2 separate regions of the Homo sapiens genome follow, and region 1 is linked to region 2. Evidence: fine-mapped expression QTL. A gene starts in region 2. The other region holds a variant in brackets. All regions are shown on one strand. Distances are from middle to middle. Region 1 overlaps CACNB4 (calcium voltage-gated channel auxiliary subunit beta 4). Region 2 holds the start of CACNB4 (calcium voltage-gated channel auxiliary subunit beta 4).

The links. PIP is the estimated chance that this variant, and not a neighbour inherited with it, causes the effect. A credible set is the group of variants that fine-mapping cannot tell apart.
Region 1: its variant is the best candidate, but not a certain one, in a credible set for the expression of CACNB4 in sun-exposed skin (GTEx, PIP 0.78).

Annotation. Positions count from the first base shown.
Region 1 is chr2:151,991,535-152,003,072 of GRCh38, forward strand. The region is part of intron 2 of CACNB4 (calcium voltage-gated channel auxiliary subunit beta 4); the gene reads right to left. Among named protein-coding and RNA genes, the nearest start is that of CACNB4, 100 kb to the right of the region's middle. RefSeq lists enhancers at 7,574-7,653, 9,343-9,843. The variant T/G (reference allele first, on the strand shown) is at 5,355.
Region 2 is chr2:152,093,717-152,105,254 of GRCh38, forward strand. CACNB4 (calcium voltage-gated channel auxiliary subunit beta 4) reads right to left here and starts at 5,328. Exons shown (of 14, transcript NM_000726.5): 1 at 5,233-5,328; 2 at 4,614-4,697. The coding sequence starts at 5,295. RefSeq lists a silencer at 5,237-5,526.

The DNA of each region.
Region 1 (11,538 bases), 100 kb before region 2:
GAATTCTGAAAATGGGCTAAATGACATGCCAAAAACTGAAAAATGGGGTGTGAAGAATGTGCTTCTTGCTTTCTAAAGCATAACCATAGGAATGCAGGGCTTCTGAATGTCTTCTTTTTCTTAACATGACAATAAGAAACAAACAATCTTTTTCTTCATCTGTCTATTTTTCTGGCTTCCATTTTTTAAAAAAATCGTGAAAAACTATCTTTCTCTATAGGGAGTCAAAAGGAGATGCTAAAAGAGATGCTTCTAGTGATTTGTTTATCATTCTGTAATGGCGATTGTCTTAATTTGGCCTCCCTCAAAGCAGAACCTAAGATAACGACTTTCGGAGGGGATCTTAGGAAGCAGGAATGAGGGAAACAAAAGAGCGAATCCAGGAAGGAGGAAAAGTCAATGAAGAATACATAACTGATTTCCGATTGCAGAGAGGTAACTGGGACTCAGTCCCACTGAGAACTTCTAAGCGAGAGTAAAATGCTCTCCAGAATGGCCCCCCTGAAGGACAATGAGCTAGAGTACTTAATCCTCGACCCCCCTTCACCATTGGTGGAGAGGGCATTAAGTTTCCTCTATTTGGAGACAGGCCTGGATGGAGTAAACTCCTTCAAGGGAGAACCGTGAGGCAGAAGAGAGAAGGCAAACAGGCTGGATGCATAAGCACTGTCCACCACAGCTGCAGCTGAAGTCTACAGTGGGTCAGGGAGATGCATGCAGCCTGGCACCCAAAAAGTGCCAGCCAGAGTTATGTGTGGGTATAAGACAATGCAGCATGGCAAGCTACACCTACTTTTCAAAAAGCACGATTTCCTTCAGTTTATCCCGTGTCCCGGGGATTTTAATTAATAAACAGTGCACATTTACTCCCTGTATTATTAGTTTATCTTACAAGAATTAAGAACAAAATGCAAGAGCAACTATAGCTTTGGGACGTTGTTAGCATGTAACTATGGCAAGAAAAGAAGTATGATAACCACTGGAAGGAACAACTAAGTGTATACCTATGCTGGAGGGCTTTTACTTACCAACACAGAGTTCTAGCTTTTTCTGTAAATGGCGTGGCTGTTGCATGTCATTATGACAGTTGCTGAGATATGTGAATGCAAACCAGCACCCGGGGGAGCAGAGCAAATTTAAGTTTCTGGGAAAGCTACAAGCTAGCCACCATTGCAATCAGGAAGCAATCCTTAGTCCCATTTCTCACCTCATTCCAACTGGGACCCATTCAGTCACCCCTAGAGAAACTTGATGCTATGAGCACTTAGCCAATGTAAGCTGAGTATTTCACATCCTTTGACTGACTCTTACTCCTCCAAAGTCAAGGTTAAGCCATGTCACTAAAGATGCTTTGGAAATATTCCGCTTCCTAAATTGCAAATAGTTCTGCAAGCAATGCAAACAGAACATTTAAGTTCTCAGGACTGTCAAAATGACACCTTCATCAGCTTCCAAATCTGGTAATTATTGTCTTCCTCACACCCACGAAAAGGACTGAAATTGAGTGGATCTCACAAGGTTCTCAGCTCTGGTGTCTTTTTTGGTAGGTGTGGGAAGAAGGGACAAGAAAACATCTTGAATAAGGTCAGAGTCAGAGACAGTAAGCCACGTTTTTTGTTTTTTTTTTTTTTAAACATCTTTTTTACTATCAAGGCTTTTACCCACAAGCTTTCCTCCTTGTTTGGAAGCACATTTTTGATCACTAACTATATCTAGAAACACTCCTTGAGACAAAGTAATTTGTAGATACCATTTTTGTTTGACCCAAGAAGCCCAGACCTACTTTCAGGGACAGGAAATAGGAGCCTGGGGCCCAGGAGAAATGATATTCATGGTAGCCAATGAAAGTGGAACTGGACGAGAAGGTACACAGGGCAAAGTGCCAAAGCAAGGATGAAACACACAGCAGTGAGAATTCATAGGCCAGATGAGGCACACAAATTACAAGAGGGGCCAGGTAAGGAACCAGAAAAACAGGATAGTGCCAGAGACTACTTCTCTGAACACGGAGGCATAGGTTGGGGAGCACTTTTTTTTTTTTTTTTTTTGAGACGGAGTCTTGCTCTATCGCCCAGGCTGGAGTGCAGTAGCACAATCTTGGCCCACTGCAACCTCTGCCTCCCAGGTTCAAGCGATTCTCCTGCCTCAGCCTCCCGAGTAGCTGGGAGTACAGGTGTGTGCCACCACGCCGGGCTAATTTTTGTATTTTCAGTAGAGACGGGGTTTCACCATGTTGGTCAGGCTGGTCTCGAACTCCTGACCTTGTGATCCGCCCACCTCGGCCTCCCAAAGTGCTGGGATTACAGGCGTGAGCCACTGTGCCCAGCCGGGGACCACTTTTAAAGTTGAAAAAGTGGCCAGGCACAGTGGCTCATGCCTGTAATCCCAGCACTTTGGGAGGTCAAGGCAGGAGGATTGCTTGAGCCCAGGAGTTTGAGACCAGCCTGGATAACATGGCAAGACCCTATCTCTACAAAAAATTTAAAAATTAGCTGAGTATGGTGGTGTGTGCCTGTAGTCTCAGCTACTTGGGAGGCTGAGGTAGGAGAATTGCTTTAGCCCAGGAGTTTGAGGCTGCAGTGAGCTATGCTGGAATCACTACACTCCAGCCTAAGTAAGAGAGAAAGACTCTGTTTCTTAAAAAAAAACACCACCGAGGATTAAATTTTCCTGTCTGGAATCCAGAAAAAAAGGGTCCCTTTTCTTTTTTTTTCAGACACTGTCTCACTCTGTCGCCCAGGCTGGAGTGCAGTGGCATGATCATGCTTTACAAAGCGATTCTTCTGCCTCAGCCTCCCAAGTAGCTGGGATTAAAGGCGTGTGCCACCACACCCAGCTCATTTTGTATTTTTAGTAGAGACGGGGTTTCAGCATGTTGCCGGGCTGGTCTCAAACTCCTGGCCTCAAGTGATCTGCCCACCTTGGCCTCCCAAAGTGCTGAGATTACAGGCGTGAGCCACCATTCCCAGCCAAAAGGGTCCCCCCTTTTTTTTTTGAGGCACAGTCTCACTCTGTCGCCCAGGCTGGAGTGCAGTGGTACAATCTTGGCTCACTGCAACCTCCACCTCCTGGGTTCAAGCAATTCTCGTGCCTCAGCTTCCCAAGGAGCTGGGATTAGAGGCGCCTGTCCCTTTTCTACAGGCTGCCTCATAGGCTCCTTAAGCAAATATGACTGCCTGCCCCACCTACATCTAGGAGATACATCATTTAGGCCAGGTTTTCCTTTTAGCCTCCTGATTTCTATTAGCCTTGCAAATGCATTTTTCTTTTCTTTCTTTCTTTTTTTCTTTAGAGACAGAGTCTTGCCCATGCTGGTCTTGAACTCCTGGCCTCAAGTGATCCTTCTGCCTCAGCCTCCCAAAGTACTGAGATCACAAGTGTGAGCCACCATATCTAGCTGCCTTGTCAATTCTTGCAATAATTTTTGTTCCCAAGTGAAAATAGAAATTAAATTTAAACTTGAGGTCCAGTTTGATGCTGATCAAACAAGGAATTAAATAAATTTGCAGAAACTTTGGTTTTTACATCTCTCAGAAGTATATGCTCAACAAGACATATTCCAAATTATTACTGGCCTACTCAGTTGGCAAATATAAGTGCCAAAAAGGTTGCAAGCATAAATGCCAAAGTAACTGCCCCCTCCCCCCGCCCAAGGCTATCCCTTAGACACACACCAGGAGTGTTTTGGGTACTTTATATGACAAAAATAAAAATGTACCTCAAAAACACTCCCAGGCCATAACAATAAACCACAAGGCCAAAGTCATTACAAGGTAAAATGAGAAAACATCATGTGAATTTTTTGAGTGTAAGATTTATGGCTCACAGCCTTTCAGTCATGTGCTTAGCACAAAAAGAAGCAGAATACATTAGATTTAATAGGCATTAGCCAAAAAAATAAGGAAGTAAGTTCATACACAAAATGATTCAAAGCATAATATCACTTAACAGACATGCTTTATTAAAGTCTGTACCATCCTGGCTAACACAGTGAAACCCCGTCTCTACTAAAAATGCAAAAACAATTAGCCTGGCATGGTGGCGGGCACCTGTAGTCCCAGCTACTCGGGAGGCTGAGGCAGGAGAGTGGCGTGAACCCAGAAGGTGGAGCTTGCAGTGAGCCAAGATCACGCCACTGCACCCCAGCCTGGGTGACAAAGCGAGACTCCGTCTCAAAAATAAAATAAAATAAAATAAAGTCTGTCATTTAGAAGTCTGCAGAGCCTACCAACATTGCCTGGCAGTTGGGCCCTATGTTGGGAAACTACCTACCAGTACCTGGTAAAGCTATCAACTTCTCCTGAGACAAGGCAAACTGCTCTTTGGGCTGGTTTACTTCAATATTTACTCCAGCTCTCCAAATAGCTTTCATTCTCCTGAACTAGTGGAGGGCTGACCTTGCAAACAAGTTCAAAGCAGTTCAAAGTCTGCAAAGAGAAAATCTACTTTTAGATGAATGGTCGGAGCAAGTCCTTATGAAGAAGAAAGGCTGGCTTCTGTTTGTTGTTATTTTTCCTATATAAGTCTACAAACACCAGCACCAGACATGGTAATCCTTCAGACAATTCACTTGGATTCAAGAACGGTATTGCCCGTAATAGATACTAGTATGAAATTTTAAAAATCCATTTGCTTACAGGCTTCTCACTACTGGCTAGCTTGGAAACAAGTTGAATACAACCACAGCATTCATTTCTTTTACTCATTTATTGAATGAAGATCAAACACAGCAAAGTCAAGGCTTAACCTCTCCTGTGTGCTCATTTGGCTGTGAGTGTCAAGACCCTCATATACTGCTTAGACAACCAAAGATTAATAGAGTGAGACCCCCTCAAGAGTCACTGTGATTCAGAAGCTCAGAACAGAGAACTCATCGGGGCTGCAGTGAGCTGTGATCACGCTGCTGCACTCCAGCCTGGGCAACAGAGCAAGACCCTGTCTCTTAAAAAAAAAAAAAAAAAAGAATAGAGAACTCAGAAGCTCTTAGTCTTAATGCTATGTCAGCCCACAACTTGCCAAGTGACCTTACATAATCCTTCTGGCTTTCAGTTTTTTCCATTTTCAAACTGAAGAATGTGAGTGACTCAAAAATAAATAGCCCAATATCCCCTCCTGTCCCAAGGTTTTTACCTTTCTTTCCAATCTGGGCTGAGTAAACCTGCCATTCCTTTCCATGATTAAAGAAGGCAGAAACCTCAGAATATTTTTCTTATTTTCTGTCACTTGATTTCCTCCCTTTTGAATACCAGTTTCTAAAATCCTAGTGTCTTGCCCAGGAAACTAAAGAAAAGGAGGCAGAGATGGAGTCACAGAAATGTCATCACAGACAGACACAGGAAAGGCTCAAGAGAAGC[T/G]CCTGCTTTCAAACTGGCAGCTGTTACCTGTTGGTGTTTAAGAAAAAAAATAACACAAACCTAGTCCCTAGGGATGAGGTGTTCCAATGGTTGTATAAATATACATCACAGGGTATAAGGGCCAAGGGGTTTTTTCATTTCACTATGAAAATGTTAAGTAAATAAATACACCCTGTAGTGAGCTGAGTGATGACCCCACACCAAAAGATACATCTGCATTCAAATCCCTGGAACCTCTAAATGTGACCTCATTTGGAAAAAGGGTCTTTGCAAATTTAAGTTAAGGATGTTGCAATGAGATCATCCTGGATTACTTGAATGGGTCCTAAATCCAATGGCAAGTGTCCTTATAAGAGACAAAGGGGGCCAGGCGCAGTGGCTCACGCCTGTAATCCCAGCACTTTGGGAGGCTGAGGCAGGCGGATCACGAGGTCAGGAGATCGAGACCATCCTGGCCAACACGGTGAAACCCCGTCTCTACTAAAAATACAAAAAATTAGGCAGGCGTGGTGGCGGGCGCCTCTAGTCCCAGCTGCTCAGGAGGCTGAGGCAGGAGAATGGCGTGAACCCAGGAGGCAGAGCTTGCAGTGAGCTGAGATCGCGCCACTGCACTCCAGCCTGGGAGACAGAGTGAGACTCTGTCTCAAAAAAAAAGAGACGAAGGGGACAAAGGGGAGAAGACACAGAGGACAAGGTGACATGAAGATGAATGCTGAGATTGGAGTGATGTAACCATGAGCCAAGAAGTCACGGAATGCTAACGGCCACCAGACGCTGGAAGGTCAAGGAACGAAATTCTCCCCCAGAGCCTTCCAAGGAAGGCAACCCTGCTGACACCTTGATTTCCAACTTCTGACCCCTACAACTGTGAGAAAATAAATGTGTGCTATTTTACACCACCGGCTTTGTAGTACTTTGTTGCAGCAACCTCAGGAAACAAGTATGTCCTAAACCCAACCACAGTCAAATTCCTAAATTAATCCCTTTTTAATACATGATACTATCTTTTTCACTTTCGTGGGAGCCATCATTTCAGAATATTTCTCAATGTTTTTCAGCCTCATTACTCTATTACACTGGCACAAATTTATCTACAGATCCCGAAGTCTACTCTACCTTCCAGAAATGAATGTTTATCAAAAAGTTGAAATAGGCTGGGCATGGTGGCTCATGTCTGTAATCCCAGCACTTTGGGAGGCCAAGGTGGGGGGATCGCCTGAGGTCAGGAGTTCAAGACCAGCCTGGCCAACATGGTGAACCCCTGTCTCTACTAAAAATACAAAAAAATTAGCTGGGCATGGTGTTGCACACCTGTAGTCCCAGCTACTCAGGAGGCTCAGACAAGAGAATCGCTTGAACTCAGGAGGCGTAGGTTGTGGTGAGTGGAGATGGTGCCACTGCAATCCAGCCTGGGCAACTCCATCTCCAAAAAAAAAAAAAAAAAAAAAAAAAAAAGTTGAAATTAAGTAAATTATGTAAACTGGAAAATATGCGATAAGTAGAAAGAGAATATCATCTGAGGTAGCAAAACCCAGTTTTGGTTCCTTACTCTGCTACATGTTACCTGAATGAACTTGATCAAGTCCCTGAACTTCCTTAACTTCTCAGAACCTCAGCTGTCTTATTGGTAAAATGAAACCATAAGTGCCATTTGCCTCACAAGATTGTTATGAGGCTCAGATGAAAGATGTGGAAATGATAAGGCCTGTACAGAAATCCACGGTGCTTATTATCCTTCCTCTCAGTATTCTGTCTCCCCTCCACGGGGGCACTAAGTCCATCTAGCAGGACCAGCAATGCATACAGCCAATAATAGGCTGGTCATCCCACATCTGCATCATTGGAATGCTGTATTCAGCACACCCCCCAGAAAATCTATTTTCACAGTGAGCCTCTCCCCTGCGTTCGAGGGCTGTCTACCCTAGTCTATGAGAATAGGGACATCGGTGGGCAGCCAGGTCTCCCAATGGATGTCTGAGCAGTGAGCAAGAGGGTGACCCACCTCTCCACCAAAGTGTGAAAAGCTTTCCCCTGGAGCTTGGTGAGCTTCACCCTCACGAAGATGCAAAAGTACCTTCTGCTTCTCTGTCACCTTGGTGCCAATGTAGGGACTCACACCCCGGGGCTGAGCCTGAATTTTATTTGGAGAACAGTTCTTGCAGCTTTAGCCTGAGAACAAATGCGGCTGTCAGCTGCTTGGCATAAGGAATCAGTAGGAACAGGGTGTCTTTTAATTAATTATCCAGACAATCAATCACTCACTCCATGGCCTACTCATGACCTCCACTAGATGGCGCAGGTGGTGCTTCTTCCCAGCTCCAGCCCAGAACGGTGCTCCCCTTGGACAGTTCATGTCCGCCCCCTCTGGGTTTTTTGCTCTATCTTTTAAAATCCAGTCCCCAGTCCCATCTGCTGGTACCTTCGGGACAATCCTCAGAATTTCTTTCCAGTTGATGGTACCTTATTCTGTCTGCCCGCCCTGTTATGGTTTTTTTTTTTTCTTCTTATACCCTTTGGGGGAATCATTTCAGTGAGATTCTGGGATGAAAAGGAAATAAATACTTATGTCATTCCAGCATCTTGACAAAGGAGCACCTATTTTTAAAATGCACAACAACAGCCCCAGTCCACTCCTTTACCTCTAACCCAATTTACCCAACGGAAATTTGCAGAGGTGGGGCCTAAGAATGCAGTTTCTTAAAGCCCCTTGGGTGATTCTGACGCACAGCCAGAGCCGAGAGCCAATGTGTTAATCCTCTTCTTGGTATAATTAAGGCAGCTTGTAGAGTAAAAATAAATCATTAGCAGCCATTTCATTTTGTTTAGGTACCAAGGCTATGCCACCCAAAAAGTTAATTGAAAATTACTAACCCAACTCCAGGACATAACTAGTACTTTGCAATCTACACCTTCTATCAGTGTGTGCTTTGTTAAATAAAACTCTTGGCGGGGAGAGTCTGGCTAGGATTCTATTCCCAAATTCATTTCTTCCTGTGTACCCTCAGTAATAACACTTCCCACCTACTTACCTCACAAGAGTGTTAATCAAAGGAATTTGAAAGCCATCTGAGCAAACTTTGTTGACTGAAATGGACACATAAGTATTGTATCAAAGCATTGTGTCATCAATCCTATAGCCTTTACTTAGAGATATTAACAAGAATATCATACTCCGACTTGACCTTTCCTCCCAGTCATACCTTTTATTGATCCTGAATTTTCAACAATGATGCTCATTTGCATCAGCAAATTGAGTTTCTTTCCTCCACCACCCACCTCACTCTTCAGGGGCTTTCGAGCTATGTCCTCCCTGCCAAGGCTTCACCACACCTACATGTCCAGACCTATCCTCCCAGAAACGAGATGGAGGGTCTGTGTAGAGTAGCAGCAAAATGTGGGGGCTATCTGGGACCAGACTACCTGGGTCCCAATCTCTGCACCATCTCTTGTTAGCAGTGTGGCCTTACACAAGTAACTAAAGCACCCTGCATCTAGTCTTCTCATCTGTAAAATGGGAATAAGAATTGTACCTCCTTCATAAGGTTGTTGTGAGAATAAGTGGATTCAAACCTGTGAAGGGCTTGGAACAGACACTGGAACATGATATTCCATATATGTTCTCTGTTGTCATTACAACTGGATGGCTCCATCTAGATGCATCCCGGATCCTGCAAACCCAAGACGTCTGTAACTAAATTCATTACCAGCCCCTCTAAACCTGTTCCAACTCTTGGTTCCTTTCTCAGTTAACAGCATCCATGTCAACCCAGTTGTCCAAACTGGAAACCTGAAAGGAATCCTTAACTCCCCATTTACTTTTCGTATATCCAATTAGCCACCAAATCCTCCCTCCCAGTGACAGCACTCTGTACCTACTCTCCCCTCCCAGCACTCACACGCCCCTGACCTCTTGGGCTGGGACAAGACTGCAGCGAGGACTGATGCTCATGGCCTGGGCGGAGGATGTGCAGAAAAGTGCGCGGGCTCTTGAGCCAGCGCAGATGTGGCTCTTCCACCGTCACCGCCCCAGAGGCCTCCTCATGGGCCTCCAGCCTCCCACCTCCAGCAGATTCTTCCTGAAGCATAACAATAGGTATGGCTTTTATCATGCCTACTGCATACCAGACACCATGCTAAGCAGTTTTCACATCAAATCTCACCGAATCTTTTCAACAACCCTACGAGGCAGGTACCATTAGGATTTCCATTTTACAGATTAAGAGGCTGAGCTACCAAAGGTCACGGTCAGTAAGTAGCAGTCAGGATTCAAACCTAGGAGGTCGGGATCAGAGCACATGGCCTTAACCACAGCCTCCTGCCTCTTGCCTCTCAACAAACTGGGCCTGGCCAAAGGCTGAGTGCCAAGGGGTGGTGGAAGGAGAGGGCAGCAAGAATGGGGCCTGAGACTCAGGCCCTGCCCTCTGGAAATTCACACTAAAGGCAGGGAGATGAAATGTGTATGTACCTGAATAAAACCACCATCTGGCAGGGTAGCGTCCATCAGTTAAAGAACGAGTCGGCCAGGCACGGTGGCGCATGCCTGTAATCCCAGCACTTTAGGAGGCCAAGACAGGTGGATCACCTGAGGTCAGGAGTTCGAGACCAGCCTGACCAACATGGTGAAACCCCATCTCTACTAAAAAAAAAAAAAAAAAAAAAAAAAAAAAATACAAAATTAGCCGGGCATGGTGGCACATGGCTATAATCCCAACTACTCAGGAGGCTGAGGCAGGAGAATCGCTTGAACCTGGGAGGCGGAGGTTGCAGTGAGCTGAGATCATGCCACTGCACTTCAGCCTGGGCAACAAGAGCAAAACTCTGTCTCGAAAGAAAAAAAAAAAAAAAGAGAATGAGTTTTACGGGTAACAAGTGCTTCCGGAGGATGATGTTTACATGAGTCTGGGATGTCAGGGAAGGAGCTTAGGAAAGCTGGCTCTTATGGGCTGTGGAATAGAATGTAAATAAGTGTAAATGGTCAGCAAGAGCTATCCTCATCAGGAGGATGCCAATGCAAAAATAGCAGGGAGGTGCGGGAGAGGTAGTCATTTTAGAAAGCTGGCTTCTGCCATTCTGCCAGCAAAAACCTAACTGTGCTAACAACGAGCATTTCTCCAAGGAGTGATCCACAGCACACCAAAGTCTTCACATGCCACACACCCCTACAAGAGGGACTGCTCACAACCTTTCCGTGTGTGCTTCAGGCATGATCATGGATATGAACAGCAATGCCGCACCTCCACGATCTGCAAGTCCCAGGAGATTTTAAAACAAAAGCCATCTCAGAGTTTCAGCAGTGGCTGACTTGCAGTACAGCAACATTTTTAAAGAGAAGAGGCTTTTTTTGTTCCTCTGTCCTCTTTCGTCCTCTTACTTGAAACACACACACACATACATATACACACACATGTGATGGCACTTCTTGATTCAATGAATTGGGAATATGATTTTTTTAGGAAGACAATTTTTTTAATACCAAATCATGTGGAGCTGATATAAATCAAAGATGTATCTGTGTGGGTCTTTCTCTGTTCATATATACAGCAAATACTGTCGAGGTTATACAGCGACCATGGCCTAAATAGCTGCAGTGGAAGATTTTGCAGATACTTCCCCAAAGCAAAATGTTATTGGAATCTATTCATTTTAATAAGAATTCTTCTGAGATCAAATATGCAACTTATCCAACTAACTAATTGTTGCCTTGGTCAAGTTAATTCACCTCTCTGAGACTTGGTTCTATCATCTATCAAATATATTTAACAATGTGTACCTTATACCACACAGAGTTGCTGTAAGAATTCAATGTAACCACATGTGATAGTGTGATTCAAATGTGCAGTATGGCTATTATCATTCACACCAAATAGATACAGCAGCATCAAAATGAGCTTGATACCATTCTATGTGGTGTTAGTGATGACCAAGGACTCAAAAGGAAGCATCTGTGGTTACATGCAATAAAGAGGTACTAGTGTTAGCAGGATTCCTATTTGAAATAACTTAGTATTTGCATTTTTGAGTTTAGCAGAAAGTCTCCATTTGAATTAATAAGGGTAGAAAATTTGAGAGCCCCAATTAGGTTCTGCATTTTTAAAATACATTCCATCAATGAACATCATGCAAAGCATGCTTTCCACTCCCAAGCAAATGAATTTCCATCTCCAGGGCCCATGGAAAATATAAA
Region 2 (11,538 bases):
CAGCCAGCAGCCAGCACCAACTGCCAACCACATGTGTGAGGCCACTCTGGACCTTCCAGCCATCCCAGTGCCCATATAACATCATACAATGCAGAACTGTCTGGTTAGTACACAGAAATAAAAAATTGTTGTTGTTTCAAGCCACAGAGTTTTGGGGGAGGTTAGGAGGCAATTTCTCCCCACTAAACAAAGCATTTAATGTTGGAGCAGAACCTCATGCCTAAAATATATCAAGTTAGTTCTCCATCCATCCACTGCTTCATTCATTCAAGTGTGTGTTTATTGAACATATACTATGCTAGATGCTGAGGACACAAAGATCAAATGCAGACATGTCCCTGTCCTTGTGGAACTCATACGGATGGGGAGACAGAATGTAACAGAGAAATCTAAGTACATGTTAAATAAAAGCGGTGGTGCTACTGAAAACTGGCACAAGGCCCTCTGGGAGCCCCTTGTTGGGGAACTGACTTTATCAGGAAGGTTAGAAGAGGAAGTGAAGACTAAACCCCCAGATCTCAGGGAAGATTAAAAGTTAACTAGGCAGAAGGAAGGACAACAACCTGCCACACAGAGGGCTCAGCATATGCAAAGGACCAGTGGCAAGAGGGAAGACAGTGTGTTCAAACTCTGTGTCCAGAGCTAAGAGATCATGGCTCAAGATGAGGCTGGAAGCAGGCAGGGGCCAGGCCAGGTATGACTTTGCTGGCCTCATAAGAGCAGACTTAACAAGGAAAAGTCAACAAACTATTCCCACTCTGATCAGATTTTCTCTTCAAACCCCAGTGGGAAGAGGACTAACTTGGAGTACTCAGCCGTATAAACTGTATGTGTAGTGACACCCATGGGTAGATATACTTATGGATATATAATAGATACTCGGGGTACATGGTCATTGAGCCCGCCCTCTCGTTCCTTGTTACATGTCACCGTACTGTTTGTAGACATCTCTGTCTCCATTGCTAGATTATAAAAATCTTTGAGTACAGGGGCTGTGTCTCATCCATCTTTTCATTCCTCCCCTACAATATCTAACATAGTGCTAGGCACATAGCAAATACTTAAGTGTTTCCTAAAACTTTAAAATATGACTAGATAATCCATTCATAAATAGCCTGTAAGAAGGGCTCTCCTGAAAGAAAATTCTATGGCCTCATTTGGAAAGCCACTCCAATGATGGCAACACTCTTAGGAAGGTCTTGCTGTAAAACATCATTCCTTTCTAATTTGGGCCAGTTCTTGAGTTTCATCCCCAATGAAGAGTGAGAACACTTCATCACATTTCCAAAGAAAGCCTTTGTGTGTACTTTGAAGATCATTTCTGGGTCACTCCTAGCTTTCTTTCCTTTCAGCGGCAAAGTACTTCATCTTCTCACCTTTCCTCAAAGAAGCCATTTATTTGCTCCCTGGATTCATTCCAAAACCTCCATCCCTCCTAAATGGTGGAAGCCAGAAATCTTGTAGACCAGAAACAAGGTCAAAGATTCCTGAGGGGCTTCATGAGCAGTCCTCAGAGTGGAAGCAGGCTCTCTTTCTCAGTCTGCTTGTTTTCCAGCCAATTCAAATGTTCATGTGTGTGCATGCACACATATGTGCATATATAGTCTCAGAAACACTGAAACTTTTTAACAAGCTCAAAGAACAAATATTGTCTTATTGGGTGAGTTGCCAACTGCCTTCTCTGCTTCACCAACAGCCCAGTCTTCCCCATCCAATGTAACACATCGATTTTTTTTTTAATGAAAGCTTTTCTCCATATTTTTGTAAATAATATGATAAAGAAACTAGCAATATATATATTTTTTGGTATTCCACTATCTTCTTCAAAGGCATCACAAAGACTGTGAAACAGCACCAAGAAATTTCATCACTCCAATGTATCAAGAATTCAAATATCAATAAATCACTGGTCATTCTACAAATAATGAGACTCTGTTTTTGTTTGTTTGTTTGTTTGATGGAGTCCTGCTCTGTCGCCCGGCTGGAATGCTGTGGAGCAATACTGGCTCACTGCAACCTCCACCGCCTAGGTTCAAAAAATTCTCCTGCCTCAGCCTCCCGAGTAGCTGGGATTACAAGCACACACCACCACGCTTGGCAAATTTCTTTGTATTTTTAGTACAGTCGGGGTTTCACCATGCTACCAGGCTGGTTTGAAACTCCTGACCTCAAGTGATCCGCCCACCTCAGCCTCCCAAAGTGCTGGGATTACAGGCGTGAGCCACTGTGACCAGCCCAAGGCTCTGTTAACGTAAGCAGCTGTTATGCTTTCATAAAAAATATTTTTTGGCATTGGGGTGATTTCAATTTTATCCGAAAGTTATTGTTAAACTGCATTTGTAATCATTTTCCTTATCTCATCAAAGAAATGTAAATCCCTCAGTTATTTTTATTGTAGCCAATACAGAAGTCTGTATGATGTCATTTGAATGAGATCATGTGTAGTATACTCAGTGAGTTGTAAAGTGCTCATAAAAATTAAGTAGCCCGGGCATGGTGGCTCACGCCTGTAATCCCAGCACTTTGGGAGGATGAGGTGGGCAGATCACGAGGTCAGGAGATAAAGACCATCCTGGCTAACACGGTGAAACCCTGTCTCCACTAAAAATACAAAAAAGTTAGCCAGGCGTGATGGCGGGTGCCTGTAGTCTCAGCTACTCGGGAGGCTGAGGCAGGAGAATGGCGTGAACCCAGGAGGCAGAGCTTGCAGTAAGCAGAGACTGCGTCACTGCACCCCAGCCTGGGCGACAGAGCAAGACTCCGTCTGAAAAAAGAAAAAAATTAAGTACTATTTTTGTGCCGAAAAATAAGATTGTGTATATAATACAATTACAATTAACTCCTGAATTTAAATTAGACCATTTAATCAAACCAATGAATTCCCATTTCATAGATGAAATATATTTATTTAAAAAAATCTACTTTGCTTTAAATTATTCCCAAAATTATTTAGCATGCAATACTTTTAACATTTCTTAAGCCAGCACATAGCAGCACGCTTTACAAGAACTTATATATACATCATCTCAATCAGTTACGGGCATAAATTGAGAAAAGAGTAAGAATATTAGAATATTATTTTGTTTGTGCTTGGAAGGAAGAATAAAGCATTAGTGCAGTTATGTAGATGAACTCAAAAGTTTTAGTCAAACAGCTTATGGAAAGAACTGCTGTGTAATTAGTATTTCCAAGAATTTGCAACAATGAAACACCACTAAAAATAGGCACCTACAAAATAAACACCAGCAAGACCTCAAACAGTTGCATAACAGAAAAATGTTTTTAAGATAAACAATATGTTTGCCTTATCAAATACATAATCTAAATACTGCAAAGGGGATAGAATGCACTTTTAGAATGAATTCGGAATCCAAAATGCATTTATTTCCATAATGTACATGCTTAGTGCTCGCTGAATTAAATGGTAGTCAAAATTTCCGCTTCTGCAGAAAGTGAAATTCTGCATAATAAATATCATCTAAATATGCTTTATAGACCCTTTTAGGAGAGGTCTGAGTTCAATTTTGATATCAATTCCTCGTTGATATGTTTAAATTGATGATAATCACTAAAGAAACACCAGAGCTGCCATCATAGGTTAGAAAACACATTACACAATACTGAGTGACCTAGAGGGAAAAGAACTTCTCAAGGTCACTCCAGCAGCCCACAGGAAGACCTGGGATAAAAGCCTCTTGGTGCGATGACCAATGTCTTCCTAGGTCACCCGAAACCTAGGACACACCCCGACAATTTCTGTTCCAAAGAAAGATCAAGGTGACTCATTGCATGATCTCTCTAGCACCCAGCAGCCAGGGGTGGTTTCATTAACAGCACATGGACAGTTGGAAAACTGAGGACCAATTTCCTGTGCCAAGGTGAAAGGCACCTAAGCATTGAGCATTACCAGCGATCCGGAGATCCCGAGCACAGACAATTCGCACTAGAACCACGCAGGAGAAAGCAAGCACTAAGAAAACAAACACGAAGTGAAGGCGCACCCAGACCCGGAGCTGAGTGCTGGCCTTCGTTAATTCCTATTTAACCAGATACAGCTGTCTTTCCCTAACTAAGCGAATCCAAGAAGCGGTCCTAAAGTGAGAGTAAACTTTCTGCTCAGTGTCTTTCTTTTGACCGGAGCTTGACGATCTCTCCCAAGATCCAGACAGATAAGAGTATTCAAATTAGGACAAAACAGAAGAAACCACTAAATCTCAACTCGAATCAAACCAGGTCCCCGGCCCCGAGGGGTCTGGTTACTCTAGGTCGAGTTATACGAATTAAAGACATTTCTCCACGCACCAAAGATACAACCAGACATATTTCCAGCTCTTAAATTCAACGTCCCTGACTTAAGCCAGGTCCCCACCGAACTGTCCACACACATGCACAAACTAACTTCCCGGGGCGGTGCGGAGACGCCGGGACGCGAAGACGTCAAGAGCCCAGGCTAGAGGGAGAGGGACTGAGCCCGAGCACCGGCCGAGGCCGGGAAGAGACGCGCGCGGGCTTGACCCGCAGCTCCCGCACGTGTGGGCCACGGCCGGCTCCAGGACCCCCGCGCCGCGCGCTCGGCCTCCTCCCCATCCTGGTCTCCCGCCTCCTTCTCATACCTGTCTGAGGATGAAGCTGGTCGAAGTGGTGCTGCCATCGGATCTTTTCAACCTGCTCCTCCGGGTTGTGGTGCCTCGGGCCACCTGGACTCGACACACGGGGGCCAGAGAGAAGCCGGTGAGGACCGCAGCGCAGAGCGGGGCGACCACCCCCGGCTGGAGTCCGCCTCCGGACCCGCTCCCTGGGGTCCCCTAGAGCCCGCACCCAAGTCTCCTCCGCGACTCCCAAATACAGCCCCCACCCCCACCCACCCACTGCAAGCCTCGACTGCTGAAAAGATGCTCGAGAAGAGCAGCCCGCAAGCACCCACCACATCCATTAACAAAGACTCTCAGGGTGCGGGGTCCGAGTCCCCGGCATCCGCTGGGGGAGGCTGCGGGCTCCGGAGCGGGAGCGCAGAGACCCGAAGGAGGGTGAGGAGGAGGAGGAAGAGAAGGAGGAGAAAGAGGAGGAGCGGGAGGAGAAAGGGACGTGGAGGAGGGGTGGGGGGAGCGGGGCCGCCGACTCCCGGGACTGGGGCCCCGCACGCCCGGCACGAAGGCGGGGCGCGCTAGGGCGGCGGAGGAGGTGTGAGGAAGGAAGAGGAGGAAGAGGAGAAGGGGGAGGAGGGGGCGGTACCTGCGAGGTGGGGGAGTGCGGCCCGTCCGCGGTCCCGTTCTTGGCGTAGGAGGAGGAGGACATCGTTCAGAGCCGCCGCATGGCCAGCCCGTGTGCGGTGGGCGGAGGGGGCTGGCCCCCGAGGCTGGGCTGCGGACGGAGGGGGAGGGCGCAGGACTTCCCCACCCGGCTCCAGGACCCGCGCCGGCGCCCAGGCTCCCTGCCCGCACTTCGGAGAGCGCGGCACCTTAAAGGGACCGAGGCGCTTCCCCCGCGCTCGCGGCGGGGTCCCGGGGAGGGGGCTTCTCGGAAACTCGCCTACCCGAGCGGATTGGGAGAAGCGCTCTCCCACCTAGCAAGCGCTTTACATCAGAGCTTCCAGAGGATGAAGGGAGGGGGAAATCTGGGATGGGGGTGGCAAGATTAAAATAGTCTGCACAGTTTAAAATGAGACAAAGGTGGCACGGTTCATGAATCAGGACTTGGGGACGGAAGCTGGTGCAGTGTGGCGGGAATGGGAAGAACCGAGCGGGTGTGTGTGTGTGTGTTTGCTGCACTGGAATTTTAAAAGGGCAAGAGCAGAGCCACCTTCCGCGACTTCACTCATCAGCCTAATGTGTAAGGCATGGGGTTTTGTGGCTTGCTTTTCGTCCGTGTTTTTGTATTGCTTTGGCAATTCTGTCCTTAGAGCTGCGAGTCACACACATCCAGGCAGCTGTGAGAAACCCAGCCAGCCTGAGTCTGACGGGAGATGCTGCCCCGCCAAAGACCAGTATGTCCTACGGAGTTTTGAAGGTCATGTTAGACCTGCTAAGAAGCAAGAGTTGGTCACTGTGCCTCCCATTTCTATGCGAATGGATATTTTCAAGGGGGAGAAACTCATCCTTGCAACCATACACAACGTTTGCCATTGGTTTCCTCCTGTAAATACATACAAGAGATTAATTTGTGATCAAATTAAAAGAGAGGGATTGCGGAAAGGAAGAATAAGTGCGAGGTATTGACAGAGGAATAAGAAGAGGGAAGAAAAGTATATGCAAATTCAAAAATAAAGAGACTCCGTTTAAATTAAAATATACTTACTATCTCAAATCGCTAAATCAGCTTGCATTCTAGGACTTTATGTTTATGGACACAACTACCATGCTTGTTTTAATAATTGCTTGGCTTTATTGAGGTCCTGGTTATATCTTACCATCCACCAGACACTTCCTTTCCATTCCTAATCCCTTCACTTAATCCAAACCTCTGTAACAATCTTATAACTAATGTCCTTGCCTCCAGGCTTCCTGGTGCATGTGCACGTATGCACATGCACACATACACACGCAGAGATTTCATTCCATCTACACACTACAGGCAAAACCATTTTCCTAAAATATCTTGCCCAAGTCACTCTTCTCTAAGATAAAGTCCAAACTCCATGGTCCAACAACTCAGCCTCTCCTGCATTTCTGATCACTCTCCATCTCATTTCTCCATCTTGATCTCTCTATACAAACCTTCCAGCAAGCAGGCAGGTCTAGTCATCAATACCCAAGTATTCCAAATACAATCACATTTGAGCTCTTCTGCTTTGGAATGCCTCCTTGGAATATGCCCTCCCAACAACCTACACACCCGGCTGAATCCTACCTTTCTTCTAAATGGGACTCAGCTCACGCTTCCTCCACAGAAATCCTATCTGACTACTCCAGTCCCACATAATTCTTGTGCTTCTGAAAAACTGGAGCATGTATTCTCTGGGCACTTAGAATAGGCTGCCTTAGCTTATTAGTTTGTTAGTTCTGTTTTTGTGAAAATCTCCTAATTTTCAGAATTTTTAGCGGTTTATCTTCTATTCCTATACCTTCCATATAGTAGATACTCCATGAATTTATGGGGAATGGAGGTCTAACCATGCAGGACTCCCTACTTTAGTTACTGTCAACCCAATCCGTATTTAGTTCTGAGCCATTTTCATAGTTGATACGTGTGTGCATATTAAATTACTATGTGAGCACTGGACTTTGAATTGTGTGGTTTTCCACTGTCCACATTCTCACTGACTTTAAGTTATTGAAACAGAACCCACAGAGGCATAACAACATGAGAAGCCCTGTACACCCAGCTCAAAGCAAAACTGGTGAAAATTATATGTTTTATATATAAGCAACCATTTAAATTTCTAAAAATGGTCCTAAAGGTGCACAACAAATGAAGGAACATTTATTCAAGAAAACCTACTGAAACCCAGTAAGAAAAGTGAGCTTGAGGTATTTGAACCAAGACCTACTCACTCTTTTCATGCTTCCAACTCAGAGAGGGCTCCACGCTATACTGGTGCAGCCAAGAACACAGGGCTCCCTCACCCTTCAGCTCCCAGTTGGAGGGTCAGCTTCCTAGGAGGGACAAAACATCAGCATTTGTCATCCTCCCCGCAGCTACCTGTTGTTGAGACTAAGTTCTAAGCAAGTATGGCAGAGGTGGGGGCTCCCTTCTTCTGCCCAGTTGTACCTGGAGGCTGTACCTTGGCCACAGCAGCACTGAGTGTACTTGGGCCTTGATCACCTTTGCTTCTGGCTCATCGAGAAAGAAGTCAGGAAACGTGGGACTGCTTTGAGTGCTTCTGCCAGAAACATTCAGCATCTAACATGGTGATGTCACTCAGAGAGAGGTGCATCATTGTCCCTACCTCTGACACCAGAGTGGAAAAAATGATGTTGAACCCTGACCTTACATCAAGGATCCCCAACCCCCAGGCCACAGACTAGTACCAGTCTGTGGCCTGTTAGGAACTGGGCCACACAGCAGGGAGTGAGCGGTGGGGCAAGTGAGCATTATGGCCTGAGCTCCGCCTCTTGTCAGATCAGGGGTGGCATTACATTCTCATAGGAGTGCAAACTCTATTGTGAACTGCACATGCACGGGATCTAGGTTGTGGGCTTCTTATGAGAATCTAATGCCTGATTATCTGTCACTATCTCCCCTCACCCCCAGATGAGACCATCTAGTTACAGGAAAACAAGCTCAAGTCTCCCACTGATTCTACATTATGGTGAGTATGTAATAATAATAGAAATAAAGTGCACAATAAATGTAATGTGCTTGAATCATCCCCAAACCATCCTCCATCCCCGTCCCATAGAAAATTGATCTTCCATGAAACCAATCCCTAGTGCCAAAAAGGCTGGGGATTGCTGCCTTATATCATATACAAAAATTAACTCAAAATTAATCAAAGACTTAAAAGAGTTAAAAATATAAAACTATTAGAAGATAAGGGTAAATCTTCATGACCTTAGATTTGGCAATAAATTCTTAGACATGACACCAAAAGCATGAGTAGGAAAAGAAAAAAATGTTAGACAGGCATGGTGGTGCGTGTCTGTGGTCCCAGCTAACCAAGAAGCTGAGGTGGGAGGATTGCTTAAGCCCAGGAGGTCGAGGCTGCAGTGAGCTGTGACACGTCACTGTACTCCAGCCTGGGCACCACAGTGAGACTCCATCTCCGGCTCAAGCAATACCTCAGTCTTCTGAGTAGCTGAGACCACAGGTGGGCACTACCATGCCTAGCTAATTTTTTATTTTTTATAGAATTGTAGTCTCCTTGTGTTGTCCAGGCTGGTCTTGAACTCCTGGACTCAAGCCATCCTCCCACCTTGGCCACCCAAAGTGCTGGGATTACAGGTGTGAGCCACTGCACCCTGCCTAATTGTATACTTTGAGTGGGTGAATTGTATGGTATGTGAATTATATGTCAATAAAGTTATTATTTTTTTAATCTTCAGATCTTACAGAAAAATTAACTCAAAATGGATTACAGACCTAAGTGTAAATGCAAAACTACGAAACCTCTAGGGGAAAACAGAAGACAAAATCTCCATGAGTCTGAGTTTGGTGTTGAGATTTTACACCACCACCAAAAGCATGATGCAAGAAAATAAAAATTGATATTCTGGGTTTAATTAAAATTAAAAATTTCTGCTCTGTGAAAAACTCTGTTAAGATAATAAGAAGACAAAGAACTTGTAAACAAAATATACAAATAACTCTTAAAACTCAACTATAATAGGCCAGGCTCGGTGGCTCACGCTTGTAATCCCAGCACTTTGGGAGGCCGAGGCGGGTGGATCACAAGGTCAGGAGATTGAAACCATCCTGGCTAACATGGTGAAACCCTGTCTCTACTGAAAATACAAAAAATTAGCCGGGCATGGTGGCAGGCGCCTGTGGTCCCAGCTACTCGGGAGGCTGAGGCAGGAGAATGGCATGAAGCTGGAAGGCAAAGCTTGCAGTGAGCCAAGATCACGTCACTGCACTGCTGCCTGGGTGACAGAGCGAGACTCCGTCTCAAAAAAAAAAAAAAAAAAAATTCAACTATAATAAACAATTCAAATAAAAAATGGACAAAAGTAGCAGGGGGTTGTGGCTCATGCCTGTAACCCCAGCACTTTGGGAGGCTGAGGAGAGAATTGCCCAAGAAGCCGGGAGATGAAGACCATTCTGAGCAACAAAGCAGGACTACATCTCTACAAAAAAAAAAAAAAATTAGCCATGCGCAGTGGGTGGCATGCGCCTGTAATCCTAGCTATTTGAGAGGCTGAGGTGGGAGGATCCCTTGAGCCCAGGAGTTTGAGGCTGCTGGGAGCCATCATCTCACTACTCTACTCCAGCCTGAGACACAGGAGACCCATCTCTAAAATTTGAAAAAAAAAATGTATTTAAATGAACAAAATATTTTAATGGATACTTTACCAAAGAAGACACATAGATAGCAAATAGGCACATGACAAGATGTTCAACATCATTTACTTTAGGGGAAATGCAGATTAAAACAACAATGCAATGCCACTATACACCTATAAGGATGACTAAACATAAAAATGATAATAGCAATGGCTAGTAAGGATAAGGAGCAATAAGAACTCTCATTCATTGCTGATGGTAATGCTAAATGGTACAGCCACTTAGGAACATACCTGAGCAGTTTCTTAGCAGTTTCTTAACAAGCTAAACCATCTTATACAATCCAGCAATCGAGAACCTAAGTATTTATGCAACTGATCTGAAAATTTGCATCCACACAAAGACCATGCAAATGTTTAATAAGTTTATTCACAATAACCCAACACTGGAAGCAACCAAGGTGTCCATTAATGGGTAAATGAATAAACAAAGCATGGTCTAATCATATGATAAAATGATAAAATACTATTCAGCTATCAAGTCATAAAAAAAAGGGATAAACCTTAAATGCATATTGGTAAATGAAAAAAGCCAGTCTGAGTCTATATACTATTTGGGATTCTAGAAAAGGCAAAGCTATAAAGACAATAAACAGATCAGTGGTTCTGGAGGGGGTGATGAAGACGGCAGGTTGAATAGGTGGAGCATGGGGGGTTTTTAAGGGTGATGAAACTGTTCTGTATGATACTGTAATGATGGATACCTAACATGGATCTGTCAAAACTATAGAACTTCACAGCATAAAGTAAGCCTTAATGTGGGTGAATTAAAAAGAAAATCATTGAAGATGTTGAGAGATCAGGATGGAATGCAGAATGTGACAAAAGAATATAACTGTATTACAAATATATTAAACAATGTCACTGAAGAATGTGGAGAAAATGGCTGCTGGCCTAAGTAACCCTGGAAATGAGTGGCGCCTGTAAGACTAAAAGGAACTGTGCATAAGCATTGTACTACGGTTGATACATTGTTTCTGAGGAGTGTGGGTTAACTATTCTGAAATCACTATATGTATACACTGGAACTGAACAATTCATTACATAGATGGCAAATGATGGGGGCCAGGTTTCCCACTGTTGGAGTGGAAGGTTACATAGAAGCAAGGGGAGGAGACTAAAATGATCCATGTGGTAATGGACTGGAGTCAGAGAATCTGCATGAACTCGAGGGTAACTTAAAAGATACAGATGGTTATATACAGAAATATTTATAGGGCCCCATGCCAAGGGTCACGCCTGTAATCCCAGCACTTTGGGAGGCTGAGGCAGGAGGCTCAATTAAGCCGAGTAATTCAAGGCCAGACTGGGCAACATAGTGAGACCTATCCCTACAAAAAACTTTTTTCTAAATTACCAGGGCATGGTGGTGTGTGCCTGTAGTCCCAGCAAATTGGGAGGCTGAGGTGAGAGATCACTAGAGCCCGGGAGGTTGAGGCTGCAGTGAGCTGTGATTGTGCCACTGCACTCCAGCCTGGGCAAAAGAGTGAGACCCTGTCTCAAAAAAAAAAAAAAAAAAAAAAAAAATTAACTTTTTAAAAAGAAATATTTGCCGGACACGGTGGCTCATGCCTGTAATCCTAGCACTTTGGGAGGCTGA